Regions from separate parts of the Homo sapiens genome. Here region 1 is linked to region 2. A link means that fine-mapping ties the variant in region 2 to the expression of a gene that starts in the linked region. Tissue or cell type: thyroid. Region 2 holds a variant in brackets; the other region holds the start of a gene. All regions are shown on one strand. Distances are between the middles of the regions.

Region 1 (10,814 bases), 270 kb after region 2:
TAAAAGCAAATTTTAACTGAAATATAGTGAATAAAATAATGAAATGTATTTCATATATGCTTGCTTAAAAGCCTAAAGGCAATTATAAGTGATGTATTTCAGATCAACTTTCAAAACTGCATATTTGAAGTCCAAATTATCTGAAAATCCCCCATTAAATAAAGTTAAATAATATTTTCTATGTCACTGACAAACAGCAATGGCACTATTGTACTTCATGGCTTAGGAAACACAGAAGAGTTTGCGTGGGGAGCTTTGCAGGGAAAGGGTGAGGGTGCATTTGCTAGAGTTTGGGAAGTTATTTTTAAGACTTCTCACCAATGTTCACAGTTCTTTATTTTTCCCAATAAAATTTTGTTAAGTATTGAAAATAATTCTGCTTTTACTCATATCACAGAATTATAAAATCCTAGAATTAGGTATAATCTGAGAGGTTGCCTGAGCCATCCTTGGTCCAGTTGCTACTGCGATTTACTTATTTGTCATTTCAGTAAACACTGACTGAGCATCCACCCGCAGGTACTTGCCAGAGATATAACATGGACAGAAAACAAAGTCACTGGCCTGAAAAATCTTAAAATCTAGTAAATTAAAGCTGTCCTTGCCTAACAACACTTTGTGACTAGAAACTAACAGCGCAGCTTTGTGAAGCTGCTCGTTCCATTTTTGGATGGATGAGGTCAAGGGTTAAAGTGCTTCCTTCTAAGGCGGGTGAGTTCTGCCTTAGCCATGGCCCCTTTCAATGGTCTGAGGGCCACTCTATGGAACCATCATCTGTGTAATGCTTCCAGTAGATCACATCTCAAATAATCAGACATTTATCATGGCTCTCTCTCCAGTCTTCTCTTCGTAAGACAACCAACCCCCAGTTCCGACTGCGCTCTTCATAGGGTTTTTCTTCCAAACTCCTCACCATTCTGGTATCCACCTCTATATGTCAATTTCTTGCTGCAGCACCTCAGGACTGATCAGCACACAGAGAAACACATTGCCTTCCCTTTCCAAAATCACATCTAACTCGTTTCTCTTTGCTCATTAGATTCTAGCTCGACTCATATTTTTCTGTCCTTCAAAAACACCATTTCTGGTGTTCTTCGCATCTTTACATTTGCCCATCTCTGCGTCCTCCCACAGCTGCCCACACGGCTGGTTCCGTCTCATCCTGAGAGCTTCGATGTGGGCATCGCCTCCGCAGAGAGGCATCCCTCGTGATCCACCTCAATCAACTTCCCCTCCACTCCCAGTCACTACCTCATCTCTCGTTTTAGTCTCAGTTTAACAGCGATGATTATCGGAACTTATCTTCTTTGTTTAGTTATTTACTGGCGGCTTCCTCCCTAGAAAGTGAGTTCATCCCTGCACTGCTGTCGTCTGCAATAATGCAAGGCAAAGCGAAGGACGAGAGGGAGGGAACGCCCCCGCCCTGGAACCTACATGGCATGATTCATATCTCTCTATTTCTTATGAATACAGTCAAGACGGCACAAGCTTTTCTGGCAGACATAGCCCATTTGTTTAAGGTCAATAAAACCGTGTCTTTGTCACATACGGACGAGACACATTCTTACGTGATGGGATCGTGCTGCAGAATTTTAGAAGGAGGGCTGGTTTGCTGGATTCAAACTACTACTCCGGCTCTATTTTTAGTCTCTTATCCAACACCACCTCCTTCCTGTCAACAATGGCTTTGATACCCACACCATCTATATCCTAGAAAAGGAAGACATTTCTACCTCCTGTGCTCTTTCAGAGCGGGGCCTGCTTCGTGTCCACTGCTTATCTAAAATGTTATTCCTGAGGGGCGGGGGTGGGGGCTCATAGCGAATCTCATTCATAAGCGCTGCTTTGTTTTTCTCTCTGTGTTGCTTCCATGACTTCTTTTTAAAAAATTCTTTCTTCCCCTATGCCTTGGGGCTGCTGGCAGTGGTGGTAAATCCTGCTGATGACCCGGGGTTAGATAATTAGTGGTACCTAGATTGCATTCATTTTATCAATGAGACAACTTCTAGGAGTTTCATTTCAGGCCACTTAGGAAAACACATAGCCAGAAGGTGCCACCCTCTGCCATAGCGGTTGCTGCCTCTGTTTGTTCAACATAAGAGACAAGTGAGCTCTTACGCTATTTCCCGTGACTTGCAGAGCCAGGGAGTGCTACCAGAAAAGGAGTCACTGTTAACCACAGAGTGAGGATCCAGCAGGAGCGCCCGCCAATAAAATGTTACATCGGTATCAAATATAAATCAGAAACAGCTTTCCCTAAATTCCTATATTTATTAACTAACACAAATCTGTAAAATCACTGAAGGCAGTTATTGTTCTACTGGTTTTATTGCTCATCAACGGAAAAGTTAAGAAACCAGCTCAGAGTCCTAAAGCAAGTTGCAGCATTGACACAACAGTAGCCTCTTAATCCCTTTCTCTCTCCTGTGGCTGGCCCTGGAAGAGAGGAAGTTTTCAGTCCTATGGCCGTGTCACATGTCAATATCCTGGGATAACTGGTTCCAAAAGATTCTGGCAGGGACTACGGTCATCACATTAATCTAAAGAATGGAAGTAACATGTGGACTGCCTCAGTTCAAACAGACCACAGTTGCTAAACAGAGACCCAAACTGGGCCACGACGCTGCCTTCATTTAGGAGACGAGACAGAATTTAAAGGAAAGCACTGATTGCTGGAAAAGCAACAGAGAATTAAAACAAAATTTGCAATCTCAATTGGAATTTCTGATTTACTCTTGGGGCCACCTGAGAAGCAATGTGTGACACAAATCAACAACAACAGCAAAGAAATGAAGATCAGATAGATTCCTTTCTACTTGCTCTTTCACTTTTCTAAATGATGCCGGAGGATGCTACATCACATGAGACAGAGCAAAGTTGCTGGAGCCACTCTCTCAAGAGGACTCTGGGGCTGGAAACAATTGTGTCTTGTTCCCTGACACAGTCTTGGGAAACAAAGCCCATGGATTAAGTAAACTCACCCAATGATCCCATCCTGGGCAAAAAGAGAATGATTCCAGCATGCAGACCCTCAGTATTCCCATAGCAAGTGACCTCTGCCCATTAAACAAACAATAGCACAGCCTAACACTCGATTGTTTTGAATGTTTCTGAAGCCTTTGCTTCATTCCCAAAACACTAGAAAGTATCACTGCAGAGGATTAAAAGCATTCATTGATTATGGAATGTAGACATTACAATAAAAAGAGACTCTAGAAATTTAATTTTGTGAAGAAATGCAAGATTCTCATTAATTTAATTAGAACATAAATAACATCAAGCATAGCTAATAAAGTTCAACATGATTTGATTTGCATGAGGCTCTATTAATGTAAGAAGTAAAGTGATATTTGCAAACTCTCAGAAAGCTGGACAGTTGGAATGGTTTCCTAAACAGCTATCTATTAGGCTACACAAAACTTGGTTTTTCTTTCCATATGTTACACATCATGAGAATTACACAAATCTATGACAGGGACAAAAGTGTTCCTGGACCACTGGAGGGAAGAGCCTGGGAACTGAGGATTCCAGGAGACCCGTCTTCCTCTTCATATTCTCCTCTTGTCCATCAGTTTAGGAGCCAGGCTAAAGCTGAGGCATCTTAAAATTTCGGAATGGGAAGGAAAAATAACATTAGCTACCCTGGAGGCTGTGGAAATAAATGCATCTGAATGCAAAGGACAGTGACTTGCAGGCTGCCTGAGATCCAATAAAAGCCTCATCAGAAGTAGCTGTCAATCACTCTAACATGTATGGCTGGTTCCAATAATTCTACCAGTCAAGATAATAAAATTTCAGAACACTAAATCAGCTCACAGCAAACCAGTTAAAAATATTTTGTGATCGCCGTGACCACCATGGTGGTCTAATACCCTGGGTTATATGTTTTAATAGAAAACACAAATGAGGCCGGGCGCGGTGGCTCACGCCTGTAATCCCAGCACTTTGGGAGGCCGAGGCGGGCGGATCACGAGGTCAGGAGATCGAGACCATCCCGGCTAAAATGGTGAAACCCCGTCTCTACTAAAAATACAAAAAATTAGCCGGGCGTGGTGGCGGGCGCCTGTAGTCCCAGCTACTCGGGAGGCTGAGGCAGGAGAATGGCGTGAACCCGGGAGGCGGAGCTTGCAGTGAGCCGAGGTCACGCCACTGCACTCCAGCCTGGGCGACAGAGCGAGATTCCGTCTCAAAAAAAAAAAAAAAAAAAAAAAAAGAAAACACAAATGATTCCATTCTTGGAAGAGTCTATCAGTTAGCACTTTGAGAAGACAGTCAGCCCTGAGTGCCCTGCCTCTCTTTCATTTCCTTTCCTAAGTACTGGAACCTCAGTCACAAAAGAAAACCAATATTTAAGTCAACAGACATACATTTAAAATTATTTCGCTGATGTGACTATGAATTTTACTTATAAAACAAGGACGTGCTGAATAGTTCACAGTATTTTTGGTGTGTTCATTTCAAGCATCTTGAACTGCTCTTTTCCTCAGCTTCCGTGTCCCAACACTGCCCAGATTTGCCCTCTCCATCTTCAACTACTTTTTTCCAGTCTCCTTTTTAGACTTGTCTGCCCTCCCCAGTTTCCAATACCTCGATACTCTCTTCTCATCTTCTCCTCCTTTTCTTCTAGGCTGTCTCATCCGTGCCCTCAATTCCCACCTCTCTACAGATGACTCAGCAACTTACCTTTAGTTTATCCTTAGTTCAGACTTCTCCTCCAAGCTCCAGACCCATCTAAAAGCCTTCATGGCCAGGTGCGATGGCTCATGCCTGTAATCACAGCACTTTGAGAGGCCGAGGTGGGCGGATCACTTGAGGTCAGGAAATCATGACCAGCCTGGCCAACATGGTGAAACCCCGCCTCTACTAAAAATACAAAAATTATCTGGGCGTGGTGGTGCATGCCTGTAATCCCAGCTACTCAGGAGGCTGAGGCAGGGGAATTGCTTGAACCCGGGAGGTGGAAGTCTCAATGCGCCAAGATCACCCAACTGCACTCCAGCCTGAGCGACAAGAGCGAAACTCTGTCTCAAATAAATAAATAAATAAAAGCCTATGTGACATTTACCCTTAAGACATTCTAAACACATCTCCAATACATCTAAAGTTGAATTCATTGTAGCCTCTCTACCACATAGTCGCCCTGGAATGCTTCTAATCTCAGTGAATGACATCACCGCCCAATTATGCAAGTCAGAAACCTAGTGATTATCTTGCTTACCTCTCTCTTAGCCTCCGCTTCTAATACATTATCAACTCTTGTCAATTTTATTTCCATCTCTGATAAGCACTACCCACATACAGGCTACCATCATCTCTCATCTGAACCACCACGGTAGGAAGATCTAGGGTACAGTTCAGAGAAAGCAATCAGGCAGGAAAACCAGTAAGTTTTATTGTTTGAGACAGGGCCTCAGTCTGTCACCCAGGCTGGAGTGCACTGGCGCAATCTCAGCTCAATGCAACCTCGACTTCCCAGGCTCAGGTGATTCTCCCACCTCAGTCTCCCAGGTAGCTGGAACCACAGGCAAGTGCCACCACATCGGGTTAATTTTTGTATTTTTTGTAGAGACGGGTTTTCACCATGTTGCCCAGGCTGGTCTCAAACTCCTGGGCTCAAGCAATTCACCCACCTCAGCCTCCCAAAGGGCTGGGGTTATAAGCATGAGCCACCGTGCTGGGCCACCAAGAAGTTTTAAGAAGGCAAATTGACTGGATTAAGAAAATGTGGCACATATACACCATGGAATACTATGCAGTCATAAAAAAGGATGAGTTCATGTCCTTTGTAGGGATGTGGATGAAGCTGGAAACCATCATTCTCAGCAAACTATTGCAAGGAAAAAAAAACAAACACCGCATGTTCTCACTCATAGGTGGGAACTGAACAATGAGAACACTTGGACACAGGAAGGGGAACATTACACACCGGGGCCTGTCATGGGGTGGGGGAAGTGGGGAGGGATAGCATTAGGAGATATACCTAATGTAAATGACGAGTTATTGGGTGCAGCACACCAACATGGCACATGTATATATATGTAACAAACCTGCACCTTGTGCACATGTATATATATGTAACAAACCTGCACCTTGTGCACATGTACCCTAGAACTTAAAGTAAAATAAAAAAAAAAAAAGAGAGAGGAAAAAAAAAAAGAAGGCAAATTGGTGGAAAAGGCATGTGGCTGACAGTGGAGAAAACAGATGAGAGCAAAACTGAAAAGGGTCCACTGGCTTCAGGAATAAAGAGGTTATTTGTGACCACGGAGAGTCATTTCAGTGGAGAAGCGTTTTTAAAAGAACGGTCAAGCCTTGTGCATTTTACCTGTCTGGAAAAAGAAAGGGAAAAGGAAAGCCGGGCCCAGTGGCTCATGCCTGTAATCCCAGCACTTTGGGAGGCCGAGGCAGGTGGATCACGAGGTCAGGAGTTCAAGACCAGCCTGACCAACATGGGAAAACCCGTCTCTACTAAAAATACAAAAATTAGCTGGGCATGGTGGCACATGCCTGTAGTCCCAGCTACTCAGGAGGCTGAGGCAGGAGGCCTGAACCTGAGAGGCGGAGGTTGCAGTGAGCCAAGATCGCAGCATAGCAACAGAGCAACAGAGTAAGACTCCGCCTCACAAAAAAAAAAAAAAAAAGAAAGAAAAAAGAAAGGGAAAAGGAAGCGACTGAAGATAGGAGAATGTGGAAAAAAATTAATGGAGCCAAGGATCCAGAGGAAGCAGAGGGGAATGCCACACAGGGCCCAGGTAGAGGGGGCACCACTGAACAGAAGAAGGGATGAAGGCATGTCTTTTTTGTTAGAGAAAAACAGAGAACATGTGTGTTGACCTCTCATTATTGAATGAATCAGAAGAAAGCATTGTCAGAAATGGAGGTGAAAACTGTTGTTACAAGAGAACAAAGTATTGGGATAGTAATTGATTAAATGAACATTTATTAAGTGCCCAGAAGCTGAGCTCTGGGAAGCCAATGGTAAACCAGAGAGAAGCTATAACGATTCACATGAAAATCCCAACTCTGCAAGGAATGAAATTTCAGCACGAGTGTTAAACTGTCAAGAATGGGAGCAGATTAAGGGGACCATGTGGAAAAAAATCTTCAAGCCCGATGACAAAAGCCTCAAAGATGCAAGCAGGCATCCTTGAGGCTGTAGGTGGTGATGAGAAGCGGGCTTCAGAGAAGGAGGAAATACTGAGTGAAGGTCAGTGGAGCGGGAAAGAGAGGCAGTGAAAATGCCATCCTGCCCAGGGGCCTCAGAGGCCAGATCTGAGGGGACATAGCAGGCTGGTCTCAAAGCCCTGTAATACAGTAATCCTATGACAAACAGGCAAAACAGCAGCCTCTGGAGCTGCATTCCATCCCAGGCCCTTACTGTCTCCCTGCTCCAGGCTCTCTGGGTGGACAGAAGACCTCCCAGGCTGTGTCCATGGGGAATGGCACCATGAGGAACACCCTGCTAGATCCTGCCTTTCCCTGCTCTCGTGGGCTGCAGGGCCGGGACTCGCAGGGAGAATTGCCAGGCTCTGATGGTAATCACCCACATGCTCAAAGTGCACGCAAGATAACTTGAAGAAAAGTCAGGCATTTTCACTCTGAGATCAGCATGCTGATGACACATGGTCTACATCTCCCCTTTTATCTCTAATCCTGACACCACAGTTTCACAACGTATTCAGCATCTGAGGAGCCTAACAGGGGACTGGGATCAAAGTGAGCCAGAAAAAGATTAATCCCGATAAGACAGAGGTTATGATGATAGCCGGGAGAAAATATTTAAAGAATGTGGGGAGCGCTCTTCTGTGTCTCTCGTAGGAACGTGTCTCTCTCCTACTTGCTGGGTCACTTCTGGCATTCCGTTGATCTCAGTGGACGTCCATGACAAGACAAGCCCAACACAAGCAGGCCTATTTATGGTTCCCAAACTCAGAGTCAGTGACAGACTAAATAGGCTCTGACTCTCGCTCTGAAATATCCGGGTGGCTGTGGCTAACCAGGGTCTTCATAAATCATGAGTTTAATTAAGGCAACAGCCAATATCCACTTTTTCTCCCCATAGAAGTTCCCCCACTGCAGTCATCAGCAAAGCAAAAAATGCTGCTTAACTTTCCCCCAGTTTCACTACTCTACAACTGTTATTACAGTATTGTTTTTTTCCCAGCCATTTTAATTAATGTTGTTTTGTGAAATTTCTTCCTGAATCTATTTCTCTGAGAAGTTTAATTTTAGAAAACCAAAGTGTCAAATGATCTAGCATTAATTACCCTATTTTTACACTTTGAAAATAGCAAACTACTAATCAATTTTTGTTTCTTCTTTATAATCAGATAGGTGTAATGATTTTTTTCCAGTAAAGCTTTTTTTGCGATTATTTGGGATACAGTATTACTATAAGCAACAAATATTAGATATTATTGTCCTTCCTTCTTATTTCATTTGAAGTATCCATAGTGGTATTTTCTCCCTACCCTGTCTCCGCCCCTATTTGGTTTGAAATCTTTTCTAACTAGACCTCTTTCAAGAAGGAAACTCTATAAAACTAAATCATCTTTTTCCTGCAAGATAACCTGAACTCTTGAAGAATCCACTTATTTGTATGACAATGTCAAAGTTTTTGCAGCATGCTAAATGTTAGACTGTAGTATTTTAGTAAGTTTCTTGCCAGCTTTTAGAAACAAAATATATTTTACTAATAATGGAAAGAATTCAATAAATTAAGCAATGAAAGGAGCAGAAGCAATAGTTTCAATATTGTAAGGGACTATAAGCAAGATTTTTGGCCGGGCGCGGTGGCTCATGCCTGTAATCCCAGTACTTTTGGGAGGGTGAGGCAGGCAGATCATTTGAGGTCAATAATTCAAGACCAGCCTGGCCAACATGGTGAAACCTCATCTTTACTAAAAATACAAAAAATTAGGCAGATATGGTGGCAGGCGCCTGTAATCCCAGCTACTCGGGAGGCTAAGACAGGAGAATCACTTGAACTCAGGAGGCGGAGGTTACAGTGAGTCGAGATCGTGCCATTGCACTCCAGCCTGGGAGACACAGCGAGACGCCGTCTCAAAAAAAGAAAAAAAAAAATACACACACACACACACACACACACACACACACACACACACATAAAGATTTTTAAAGTCTAAGAATATTCTTGGGGAGATTTTATTTTTTATATAAAGAACATTTATCTAGAAGAAAGAGCTGTTCAAAAATTATAATATCAGTCCTTTATCTCTGCCTCTGTTTTCTCTTGCTTGTTTCTGACACAGACTCAGATGTTAGTATGAATGAGTCACCGCGGTAGGTAACTGAATTAAAAAAGAGAGGGAGAAAAGGTACTTGTGTTTGTATTTTTATAAAACTTTTAATAATTTTCACAATACAGTCATCACCATTATCTAGAATTACAATAGTTAAAAGTTACAAATGAAAAGATGATTCAGTCCGTAGGCACAGGTCAGCTCTTCACTGAGCACCGACAGTCAGGGAAACATTCCTTCACTTATTTATTCACCCAATACATACTTACTGAGTGCTGTCTGCCCGTCACTGCCCCAGGTCCTAAGAGACTCATCTCGGAACAAAAAGGCTCTGCCCTAATAGAGCACCCCTGCTAGTGAAGGATTCCGATCAAAAGGGAGTGAACACAAGAATTTCAGAGGGTGATGAGGACACACAGCAGAGTAAGGGCATAGAGGCTGGGTGGATAGGGCAGGTTCCCCTGGGCGTTGCATTTGGCCTGAGATCCAAAAGATGATAAGGAATCAGCCATGGGGGAAAACGTTCTGGTCAGAGAGAAGAATAATTACAAAGGCCTTGGGGAAGGAATGAGCTTTATTTGTTTTAGTTCTTAAAGCTCTTCCTCCATGACTCAGTTGTTGGAAAACTTTTGGGAAGTCATTTTGATAGACAGTTGCAGTATGGCTGGAGGAGGATCCAGGCTTCCGACGACCCCAGACTCACATATCCTGAGGCTAAAGCAGCCAAGACACGAGGAAGGGAAGGGCATTATTTATGAGACCCTGAGACTGTTTCTTCACCCTGACATTCATTCACTCCTTCATTTATTCATTGTCTCATCTTATTTAAAAGTAACACTGTCAACCAAGCCACCTGTAGTCTTAGTGTATGGAAAACAAAAAAGAAACCTATATATTTTGGTTGTGGTAGCTATTATTTCTAGACATATTTGCCATTTCTTGGCCTAAATATCATAGGCTGGACTTGAAAATTTTCCAAAATTCCTTTGGGATTCTTTTACAGGTCCACAATCTCTTATATGTATCCTAAAACCCAGAAAGCAGAAAGCAATAAAAACAGAATGAAGAAAATATATTTGGTGACAAAACTTAACCTGTACTGACTTATCCTCTTTATCTCCATAAGTTTGAATATTCATGAGTTTTATGGAAGAAATGTTAACATGTTTAATTGCCAGGTATGGCCTCAGACTTAACTTTGCTGTGTAACAGACAATACGGCCACGACATTACTTTTCTAAGACCCCAAAAGATCCAGAATTCCGAATGAATTTTGGCTAAAGGATGCTATAAGAATCTCTAGACTTGAACTCCTGACCTCAGGTGATCTGCCCGCCTCGGCCTCTCAAAGTGCTGGGATTACAGACGTAGCCAGGCATGATGGGTGCCTGTAGTCTCAGCTACATGGGAGGCTGAAGCGGGAGAACTGCTTGAACCCAGGAGGCAGAAGTTACAGTGAGCCGAGATAGCACCATTGCACCCCAGCCTAGGCGACAGAGTGAGACTCCGTTTCAAAAAAAAGAAAACAGAATGTCTGGGTTTAAAGGAATA
Region 2 (10,814 bases):
GTGTGTGGAATCACAAGGTTTTCTAATGTAAAATGTGAAAAGTTTATGTAGCAGATTCTATTTAAACCTTTTAAATGGGTATTAGACTTTTACTGTATCACAGACATCACAAACTCATAGAATTGTAAATAACTTACAGTAGTAATTTATTCCATTTCTCTTAGGTGACTGATTCTAAATCATCCAAAATATGTATTAAAAATATGTATTACAGAAGTCTCCTCTCCTTACATTAAACCTCATCCTTCTGCTTAAGGAGGTTGATATTAAGTCTCTCCAAACTAATTTACACCTAAGAAATATTATATACAGTAATTAATAAAATACATATTGTGTACATATGTACATACATTTATGTATTCATATATATATACAACAGACTACTTTTTCATCTTTCTAATCTAGGGCTACAGTTATTAGATGATTCTTGCTATCAGTTTCTAGGCTGTCCATTTCTAAGCTAAATAACTGAAATGGCTGTAATCTTATTTTAATTGTTCCTACTGTTTTTCCACCTGTTCATCACTCTCATCTATTTTTTTCAAAAAAATTCAGCAAACAATTATTCTGTCTTTAACATGCATCCTTGACAAACCACCCTGTTCCAAAGTTTTCACTTGGATTTTTTCTGCGCCTCACTTAGTGACTGTCACCCACATCAATATATTTTCCCTTTAAGGCCAAACTCTCTGAAAAAGCAGTCTAACTTCTTTGCCTCACTTTCCTCACTTCCGATTCATTTTTCCCACCCATTGCAACCTATTCTCCCCCAGAACACTACTGAAATTGCTTTTTCACTTATCATCAGTGACGGCTTAAATGATAAATTGTCTTCTTAGTCTGGATAAAAAATTATTGTGCATTATTGGCATTTGACACTGCTGATTATTCCCTCTTTGAAATGTTCTCCTTTCTTGGTTTCTCAATATTAATTGACTGAGTCTACTATTAGGATGTACTATTGTTTCTCACTCTCTCTTGCTGCTTCCTCTCTCTCTGTAAGCTTTAAAAATTTTAAATGCTTGGTATTCTATGGAGCAATAATCTGGGCAATTTTCTTGATCTGCATCTCAGCCCCTAGAAAATATCCCATAGCTTAAACTAACATCTGTATATTTATGACTTCTAAATCTCTCCAAGTCTGAGTTTTTTTTTAATGCTCCAGATCAGTGTTTTCCAAAGAGTGAGTTGTGCCCTTTTAGTAGTTCATGAACTCAATTTAGTGGCTTACAGCACACACAAAAAATGAAACAAAATGAATGGCACAGACAGAAACTATCAGACTACATCACACTAAGAAAGGCGTATTGTTCTGTGAAATATGAAATCATATCTTCATATAGGGCCGGATGTAAAATGGACTTGTTGCTGTGTTTCATAGTCATAAAAGTTTCAAAACCACTGTTCAGGACACATCTTCATAACTGCTCACTAGATATTTCTACATGGATGTCTTTCAGGCACCTAAACTCTGCAGGTTCCAAATCGAATTTATTATCTTTCCCCTTTGAAACCTCTTTTTCTTAGTCTGTTTTCTCACAGTTAATACTGTCAAGCTAGAAATCTGTCAGTAGTCATCTGCTCCTTCCATTTCCCTACTCTTCATATCCTAACACCATCAAAAACCTGTAATTCTCACTCCTACACATCTCTGAATGTTTCTCCTCATCCCCATTTTCACTGCTTTCATTTAGGCGCACAACATTTAGTTTAAAAATATAGTGTACTAGTGGAAGCTCTGAGGTGTAGTAAGGCCAGCAGAGTAGAAGGTGACTGCCACTGACAATACAGCTTGTTACTCACGGTTCCCAAGAGGAGGGGGCATGCCGCCCCAACAGGGCCACAAAAAGAAGCATCAGGGTTGGTTAGGAGGCAGAGGGAGAGAGGGGAAACCCTAAACAAGCCTTTATTGTGGTTTCCTTGGGAAGAAATGGGCAAAACAGAGTAAAAAGCATTAGGATTGGTAGTTTAGATATTTTCAATTGGCTCTGAGGCACAAGAGCTCTCTGTACCTGGCCCTGGGGTGATCAGGGCAGGTGGATAATGGACCAGAGTGTGAAAGCCCACTAAAGGAGATGGTTGAGGTGTGCGCTCTGGGTTGATTCATTTGTTTTGGAAAAGTGCACTTGTGGGCGAGTTATTTATTATCTCTAGAACTGGCAAACACTAGGAGGGGCAGTCCCTCCAGGGTCAGCAAGGCCCCAGATGTCACAGCAACAAAACGCAGGAAATAAGAAACACAGTTCCTCCACATCTGTCACCTGAATTATTGCAGTAATATTCTAATCCATCTCCCTATTACTAACTCTCTTACTACAAATTATCTTTCTAAAAGCCAGATTTAATCCCAGATCTATTTTTTAAAAACCTTACAAAATGAAACACAAAGGTTTTTTTTTTTTTCATTCAGGATCTTTAAATAGGTAGCCTATGTTCTTTTCCAGCTTCTTCTCCCATCTTGTTTGCAAATGCAACTGAAAGAAAAAAATAATTCCATAATCCTATCACTAATATATCAAACTGTTTTCCATTTTCTATGTATGTTTCCTTCTAATTCTTTACTGAGTATACATTTAATTTTTCCAGGCTTTTAGTAAAGATGTAGCTGTTTTGTATTTTATGCTTCTGATAGTTTTCTAGTATAAACTTTCACCGTACGAATATGGTTTTTCTTACTTGCCTTTTAATAGCAGGAAAACTTTGCAGCAAGTGAAGTTTATGAAAATTTACCAAATTACTCCACTGTAGTTAAACACTGAGACTATTTCCAAAGGTTGAAATGAGGCTTCTGCAACCCTATCCTATCCTCACTTCTTCCTTCCCATGGATTATTCATAAATATCCTAAGCATTAATACTGGGACAACAAGAATATATATATTTATGGCTTTTGACTCAAAATGCCAAAACGTTTTCTAAAAGGATATCATGTCCTATTCCACCAAAAATTCATTCAATATTTACTGACACTTCTTATGTGCTAAAACAGTACCAGTATAGACGTATAAACTGGACACTATTTTGATCTTCAAGGAGTATACAAACTACTGTGTTTCTGTATACTCTTAGCCTATAGCAATTTTACTGCCACCCTAAAGAGGTTAGATTGTTTCATGTTACACATTAGGAGAGGGAGGCTCAGAGGGATTAAGTCATTTGCCCCAGATTAAACAGAGGCAGTTCAAGGACCAGGTCACGACTATCTGGATATCACTCCCAATATGCTCTTATTTTCAGAGTGTTTTTTCTTCTTATAAAGCAATTACAATACTTTTCGTTCATATATTCAAGGTAATAATCAAATGTTTTAGAAGTCTCAAAAATAACTAATGTCATAATGATTTCATCAAATATTTAAAATCCTCTAATGCTCCTAGTAGTGACATTTGATCATACCCATCTATTTTGGTAAGGTAATGTGAGCTGTTTTAATAAATAAACCCTGAAATATTAGTGATGTAACATGACAAAAGCTTTTCTTTCTCATTCTAACCTTAGTCTAATGCTGGTGTTCAATGGGACAACTTTCCACGTGGTAACTCAGACGTGGGCTCTTCCCATCTGGTGACTCTGTCATCTTCTACGGTCCCTGAGGTCCTTTGCTTTTACCGTTTAGCAAATAAAAAGAGACCATGGAGAAGGCCCATTTTCGGCCTGGTACCTCACTTCCATTCACATTCCATTGTAGAGAACTAGCCACATGTCCATACCTACGTGCAAGGGAGTGGGGAGGGCTGGGAAATGTAGCCTTATCAAGGAAGACAGAAAAATAGGTTCTGGTAATATGAAATAGTCTCTTCCACATCCTCCTTTACTTTCACTATCCCAGGAGATGAGAGTTCCTGGTTAAGAACCATGCCTTTGATGAGAATGTCTGATCTACCTGGGTAGAGTCTTCTTTTGCTACTTACAGTATGAACTTGGGCTAGTTACCTAAATCTAATTAGTGTCATTTTCTAATAGTCTAGTTTATTCTTTTAATAATACTTAACTCTTAGATTATTGGCAGATTTAATGATATAATACATGTAAAGCACCTTAAAAGAACTTAGCACTTGCTAGTTAATCAATAAATATTAATTTTTTTCTACCCAGTCCTTCAGAGGTCATATGTCATTTATTTATATGATCCTAATTTTATCTTTTAAGGCCATAGTTTTAAAAAACCTAAACAAATTGAAAATTATGTTACTGATTTTTCTTCACATTTACAAATGCTACATTCTCAAAATTCCAGTGAGAATGAAATTTAAAAATGGAAAAAAGCAACACAACTGATGAAAGGAGAGAGAACACAGACTAAGGTAGATAACTAAATAAGACACTAAATTTTACACTGAAGTTCTCTTCAGAAACCTCTCAGAGGCAAGGTGAAGTTAAACATATTCTCTATTCATCTTTTTAGTTGAAGCAGACAAATCCAGCCAGTTTTAATATCTTAAGTCTTCTCAACATAATTCCAAGAAATTATCAATTTAATTACTCTTGCAGCTGCCATGATTCCATAAAAGCTAAGTTCTTCAAAGCATAATAAGTATACACTGACATCTAATTACATGTTCAGCATGTTCAGGATAGTGATATGCACAGTGGGTTGGTTTGAAAGGCTCAAAACACGTTTATTTTTATTAATTTATGGAACAGTTTCTATCTTCCATAAATGAGTATTAGTATAGTATTTGATTTTATCCTAATTACAGCCTACTACAGCCTCCTGCTGTCATAAATGGTGACACAAAACTCCTGGGTAAGGGGCAAAAACTCATGGCATAGCACAGCAAGCAGCATGAGTATTGGATTGTACGTTGGTCCCTTTGTTCCCCAACTCTGGCAGGCCCAAATGGATGCTATGCACACAATGGGCTTGTCACAGCTGAGGAACACTGAGCTTGGGGAATCCACTGTTTGACAGTAAGTAGTAACAAGCCTGCTCTTGGCTAATGCCTCATCTCTCAAGGTTTCTTGCTACAAACCATCCTGAGAAATCTCCTGGGTAAAGAGCAGTCAGGGACTTACATTTTTGGCAAGGCCAGCAAGGGTGTGCAGGATGCGCTCAGATCCCATGGAAGACTGCCTCTCCTAATAAGGATTTGATGTGGCTTACAAGAAGATAGAATATATAATAAGATTATAACATTAGAAAAAAATGTTGCAAAAAAGAAGCTTTATGGTTAAGACAATGCTATAGGGGAAGTTCATAGGCAGAAATACATGTCGAAGATTCTCTACAGTAACTAAAGACTGGCCGATAACTCAGCCCTGCACTTCCTAGTGGTAAGGACAAATAGGGAAATGTCATTGATTGTAAGATTCACATTATCCATAATATAATTAAATGCTACATGTATGTATAAGAGAACTTAACAGCATAGAATTGCCAATCAGAACTGGAATAACTAGAAAATTAATCAATTCTAGAGGTTAACCCTTAAAAGATAAAGAGGATTTCAAAACTAAGGATTATAGTGAGAAGTCTTTTAGGCAAGTGGGACATGACATAATCACATTGTAAAGGAGCTAACCAAAGCCAAGGGGTTTGTCTTCAGAGTAGAGAAAATAAGGCTAGAGGGCTAGAGGCGAGCTAGAGCAAAAAAGGCTTGCGCAGAAGAAAACAGGTAGTACTGATGGAGAGGAAATGAGGATACTTTTGTAGTTTTCTAAGAAACACAGTGATTGATAAAGCAATGTAAACTAGATTAATCTGGCCATTTTATTAGAAAACAAAACAAAAATAATCCAACTGAAGGGACTGAACTATGGTGGTAGCAGTAAACTGGAGGCTAAAACTTGGTGGAGAATTTGTTTTAATCTTACAGTATTTGGCAAAAACACAACTAAGATCTTAACTGACAGTGTGAATTTCTGTTTCAAATGTCTATCTTCTGGTTCAGGTTCAGAAATAATCTTAGATCTGAATTACAAACAATATACCTGTATCTCCCTACATTTTTTTTTTTTTTTTTTTTTGAGACAGAGTTTTGCTCTTGTTGTCCAGGTTGGAGTGCAATGGCGCAGTCTCGGCTCATGGCAACCTCTGCCTCCTGGGTTCAAGTGATTCTTTTGCCTCAGCCTCCCAAGTAGCTGGGATTACAGGCATGCGCCACCACCCCCAGCTAGTTTTGTATTTTTAGTAGAGATGGGGTTTCTCTATGTTGGTCAGGCTGGTCTTGAACTCCC[A/G]ACTTCAGGTGATCCGCCTGTCTTGGCCTCCCAAAGTGCTGGGATTACAGGTGTGAGCCACTGCGTCTGACCCATTTTTTACTTTCCATCCCCTCATTGATTTAATTCTATCCTTCTTGTTCTTAGACACGGCATTTGTTCAGAAGAGATACTCAATTCTTCTGGCAACATTATTGAAATAATTATATATGTGAAAGTAAAATTCTATGTAATATTGTCCTTCTAATATTCCAGAAAACTAGGAAATAATATTCTCAGTGATTTGTATATCATCACTTGAGCATCAAATAAATGTGCAAGAGAGAGTGAAGAATGAAAAAATATCACTGAAACGAAGCAAGCATTATATGGTGCTTACTATTTTTGTTAAGAAAGGAAAAACTGCTTAAAACAAATCTTGGAACTCCCACAAGAATCTATACCTAGAAGTTATAAACAACAAAGGTGGCCCCACTGAAATGGAGTTAAACACATCTGAGGATACAGTGACCATCTGTGTCTCAGGCTCACTGTCAGCAAAGGTAATTTTCATTAAATTCGGTTTGAAATCCATTTATACTAGACTGCAGGATGCGGACCTACATGCTTCACCAAAACACAAAGGATCCCTGCTAGATTATCACAGTCATTTTCATCCATGTGCATTAGAGTGAATATGTTAAAAATAACGGATAATTCCATTCAATTTAGTCACATCACAATTTACATGTGCATCAGAAGCAAACATTAGGGAATTAACAATAAATAATTATTGACTCTTACTTCATACTGCCACATTTTTACATGCAAAAGAAAATTTACTGGACGTTCATATCTCATTATAGCTGGCATGTAATTTATTTCTCTGTTGGAGTTGAGTTTATCAACTGTTTCTGTCCATGCAGAGAAAATATTCCTGCCTAAGAAACCAATACAAGAACACAGGTAGGAAGCTGGAAAGCTTAATTGAAAGTCTAAGTTAGGTTGTCACTGTGATTCAAAGGAAAGAAGAAAGGACCCATTTCATCATTTATTTAACTGCACAAAATCTTTCTCACTCAATTGCACAAAGTCTGACAGTTAATTGCACACTAATTAGTACCCTGCATATCATTATATCAGAATATACTAATATGCATCTATCAGAAGAAAGGGACCCCATTCTATCATTTATTACTCACCTATGTGATATCTAAGAGTATATCATTCTGATTAGATATAAGGAAAGATAAATATTTCATGGATTTCATGAAGTTGAAATAATGATGATAGTGATAATTATTGCAAAATGCTCTTTCAGTAGTTGTTGACAGCAGTTCAATTTAGATAGTTATACCTAATCTATGACTATCGTATTATTGGTACTCAATTGCCAAATGAGATTTATACAACCATAATCACAGCGGAGCATACTCTTATAGGAATAGTTACTTTAATGAAACCAAGGTTCACAGACCTTGCCCTACACAATATTTATAACTGAGAAAATTCAAGTGAGCCTTCCAAAAACCATCATCAATAACAACAATAATGATGGCTAACATTTATGGAGCATTTACTGTGAGCCAGGCATTGTCAATATTACATGTGGTATGTCTCATCCTTATAACAGCTCAACAAGATAGGTAGTATTTATCCCCATTTTACAAAGACGAGGCCTATCAGGGTTAAATGAACTGTTTCAGTCCACCCAGTTAGTTAGTGACAGAACTAGGATTCCATCCCAGGAAACCTGATACCAGAGCCTGAGTATGAACCACTCGGGGGACAGCAACCATCTGCTCCAGGACCCATGAAAGCACAAATCTCTATGACCAAACTAGAATTTAAGATACTAATATATTCATCACTTAAGTATGTGAAATAATTAGTGGATACTCTATAAGAATGTAACCTAAGGATATTAATATTCTAAGGTCTCTAAGATCTATTTCGTCTCTTTGGCATAACTTGCCAAAATAAAAGACAGTAACTATATAGAAGACATTTGAAGAAATGTGTTTGGAAGCCCTGTATTTCAAAAGTGGAAGACTTCCAGATATTTGACCAAATCTTTTGCAAAGAATCTCGTTCTCTAAGTTGAAAATTTATAAACCTCTGCTTTCAAAACTTCTCCCATAGAATGAGTACATACTGACAATTTAGTGTTCTCTCTTCAATGGGGAAAAAGCTTTAACAGCTTCCTGGACAAGACTGTATTAAGAAAATCCAATGCTTTCACACTGATTTATATAAAAAAAATTCTGACGGAATTGCCTATGAAAGAATGACTCCTGAAAAATCAAACTGAGGGGTTAGTTCTGTTTTGAAATAGGTAACTCCACAGTAACTGATTTTTAAAGACACTTGGCAATGAGTTTCTGACAAGAGTAATGGCATAAGGGCAGATGTACTTGGAACAGAAAGAAAAAGAAAACAGTAAAGCTGGTAAATTCTCAGAGATTATGGGACCTAATGTTATTTAGACTAACTTCAATCTTTAGACATAATGATGGAAGAAAAAGGGCAAAAGAAAAATGTTAGCATTCATTCTAAGGTCTTTACATTTTGAATAACTCGGGCTTCTTTTACTTCATCTAATTTTAGTGTGCTTTTTTTTTCCTTAGTGATAACCTAAAAACTTAATACGAATGGAGAATAGCTTTTCAATTTCAGATGTTGATTCCAGTGTCTCTCTTAGGACTGTGACCTACTTTAGAGCTCTACTTTTTTGCAGTATGCAACCTGACTTCAAAAGAGGCTTCACGGATCATGAATATGACAGATAAAGATGTTCCATAGTATGTGCCTATGAAGATTAAACACAGATAAGATAACCTTAACATGCTTATATTCACTACTATCAGGATAATAAAGGCCAGTGATCTTTAAGGTATGAAGAACCATCGAATTGACCGTTTAAGTACTATCAAAACAGAGTTAAGGAAGTTCAAAAAGATGTCTCGAGCTCTTCCATGGAAGGTTTTCGTATACAGCGCCAAGTTCACCTACTCCATACTCCTTACAACCTGATCATTCTTTCACTTTAATCTTTTATGTACAATATCTATTAGTTCATTTAATAAAACCTACTCTGTAAATATATTTGGAGTACATGTACTTATGTTACATCCCAACCAGAATTTAAAATATTTGAGACCAGGCATTCAGCTTTTGACTATTTTTTAATTTTAATACAGTATATAAGATCAAGATGTACAAATTATAATACACATACCAGACAAATTTTATTAAATAATAAAGAAGGGAGAGAGAAAGAGCAAGACACTTTTTAAGCACCATGTGCCAGGCCAGTGCTTGAATCTCTTCCTACGTTACTTCTCCTTATTATTTAATCGTTATTTAAATGTTACTACTCCCATTTTACAGATGGAGAAATTTAGCTTAAGGTAATGACAAGATTGAACTTCAAGTTTTCTGACTCCAAAATATGCCCTCTTTCGACCACACCGTATTATCTCTAAATATGGAAAACATTTCAAAAGTAGCAAGCGTCTTCAGAACAAAAACAAAAACAATCAAAGGGGCTTACACATTATAAACATGGTTTCGGGGTCATATGCACAGGGCTAAAGTGAAGCCGATGGTAAGTAACTATTAAGCAACACACTGTTCATGCTCAGTCAGAATTTTTCCTTGACTCCGTCTTGCTGAGCTCTTAATAATTTGTGCCTCCTTCTAGACCACAGCTGTTGCATTTATCTTTATTTGCAATCATCTTAGGTCCCCTCCACTTGTAACATTCTGGGATTTTATATGTGATGCATCCTCTTTTAAGTTTATTTCACACTCAACATCTACCTTTCCTTAGAGAAAATTAATGCTTTGCTTTAACAGGAAGAAATCCGAAGCCTGTCTCTTTCTACCTTGTTATGTAGGGCATGTTTCAGTAAGCACATGATGACAATGTCAACAAAGGAATGATTTATATCAAGGTGGTGACAATGTCATGAGGAAACTGAATCTAAGATTTGGGTTTGAAAAAGAAAAGCAGGCCGGGTGTGGTGGCTCACGCCTGTAATCCCAGCACCTTGGAAGGCCAAGAGTTTGAGACCAGCCTGGCCAACATGGTGAAACCCCGTCTCTACTGAAAATAAAAAAAAATAGCCGGGCGTGGTAGTGGGTGCCTGTAATCCCAGCTACTCGGGAGGCTGAGGCAGGAGAATCGCTTGAACCTGGGAGGTGGAGGTTGCAGTGAGCTGAGGTTGCGCCATTGCACTCCAGCCTGGGCAATAAGGGTGAAACTCTGTCTCAAAAAAATAATAGTAATAGTAAAATAAAATAAAATAAAAGGAAAAGCAGAGGAAGCAGTAAGAATTACAGCAATAAAGAAATCTTTAAAAAAATGTATAATAATTTAGACATTTAATTATTTTCCTTCCAAAGTAAGCACTTTGGAATGCTATCTGGCAGTTTTAAGATCTGTATTGCACAATTTTAGGTGTGATACAGATTTTCATCTTTGCAGAATGAAATTTATTTTGGGAAATAAACATTATTTGGAGTAAAAAAATGCTAGGGTATATAGACATTCATACTAAATTAACATAGAACTAAGAGTCTGGTATATAATCATAAGACCATTGTAATGTGGCTTGTAAGCTGACTCTAATTCTACAGGAGGAGTTTCAAAGTGTTTCCATCAATATTGATTATACT

Which allele goes with the higher level. Positions count from the first base shown, and alleles are read on the strand shown. Sizes are in standard deviations (SD) of each study's normalised expression.
With allele G in place of A in region 2, the expression in thyroid of the gene that starts at base 4,758 in region 1 is higher (small effect, 0.25 SD a copy in GTEx).

The links. PIP is the estimated chance that this variant, and not a neighbour inherited with it, causes the effect.
Region 1: it holds the start of TENM3, and the variant in region 2 is fine-mapped to the expression of TENM3 in thyroid (GTEx, PIP 0.99).

Annotation. Positions count from the first base shown.
Region 1 is chr4:182,237,346-182,248,159 of GRCh38, reverse strand. It overlaps TENM3 (teneurin transmembrane protein 3), which reads right to left and starts at 4,758. Exons shown (of 28, transcript NM_001080477.4): 1 at 4,684-4,758.
Region 2 is chr4:182,505,090-182,515,903 of GRCh38, reverse strand. All of the region lies in intron 3 of TENM3 (teneurin transmembrane protein 3), which reads right to left. Among named protein-coding and RNA genes, the nearest start is that of TENM3, 270 kb to the right of the region's middle. The variant A/G (reference allele first, on the strand shown) is at 6,177.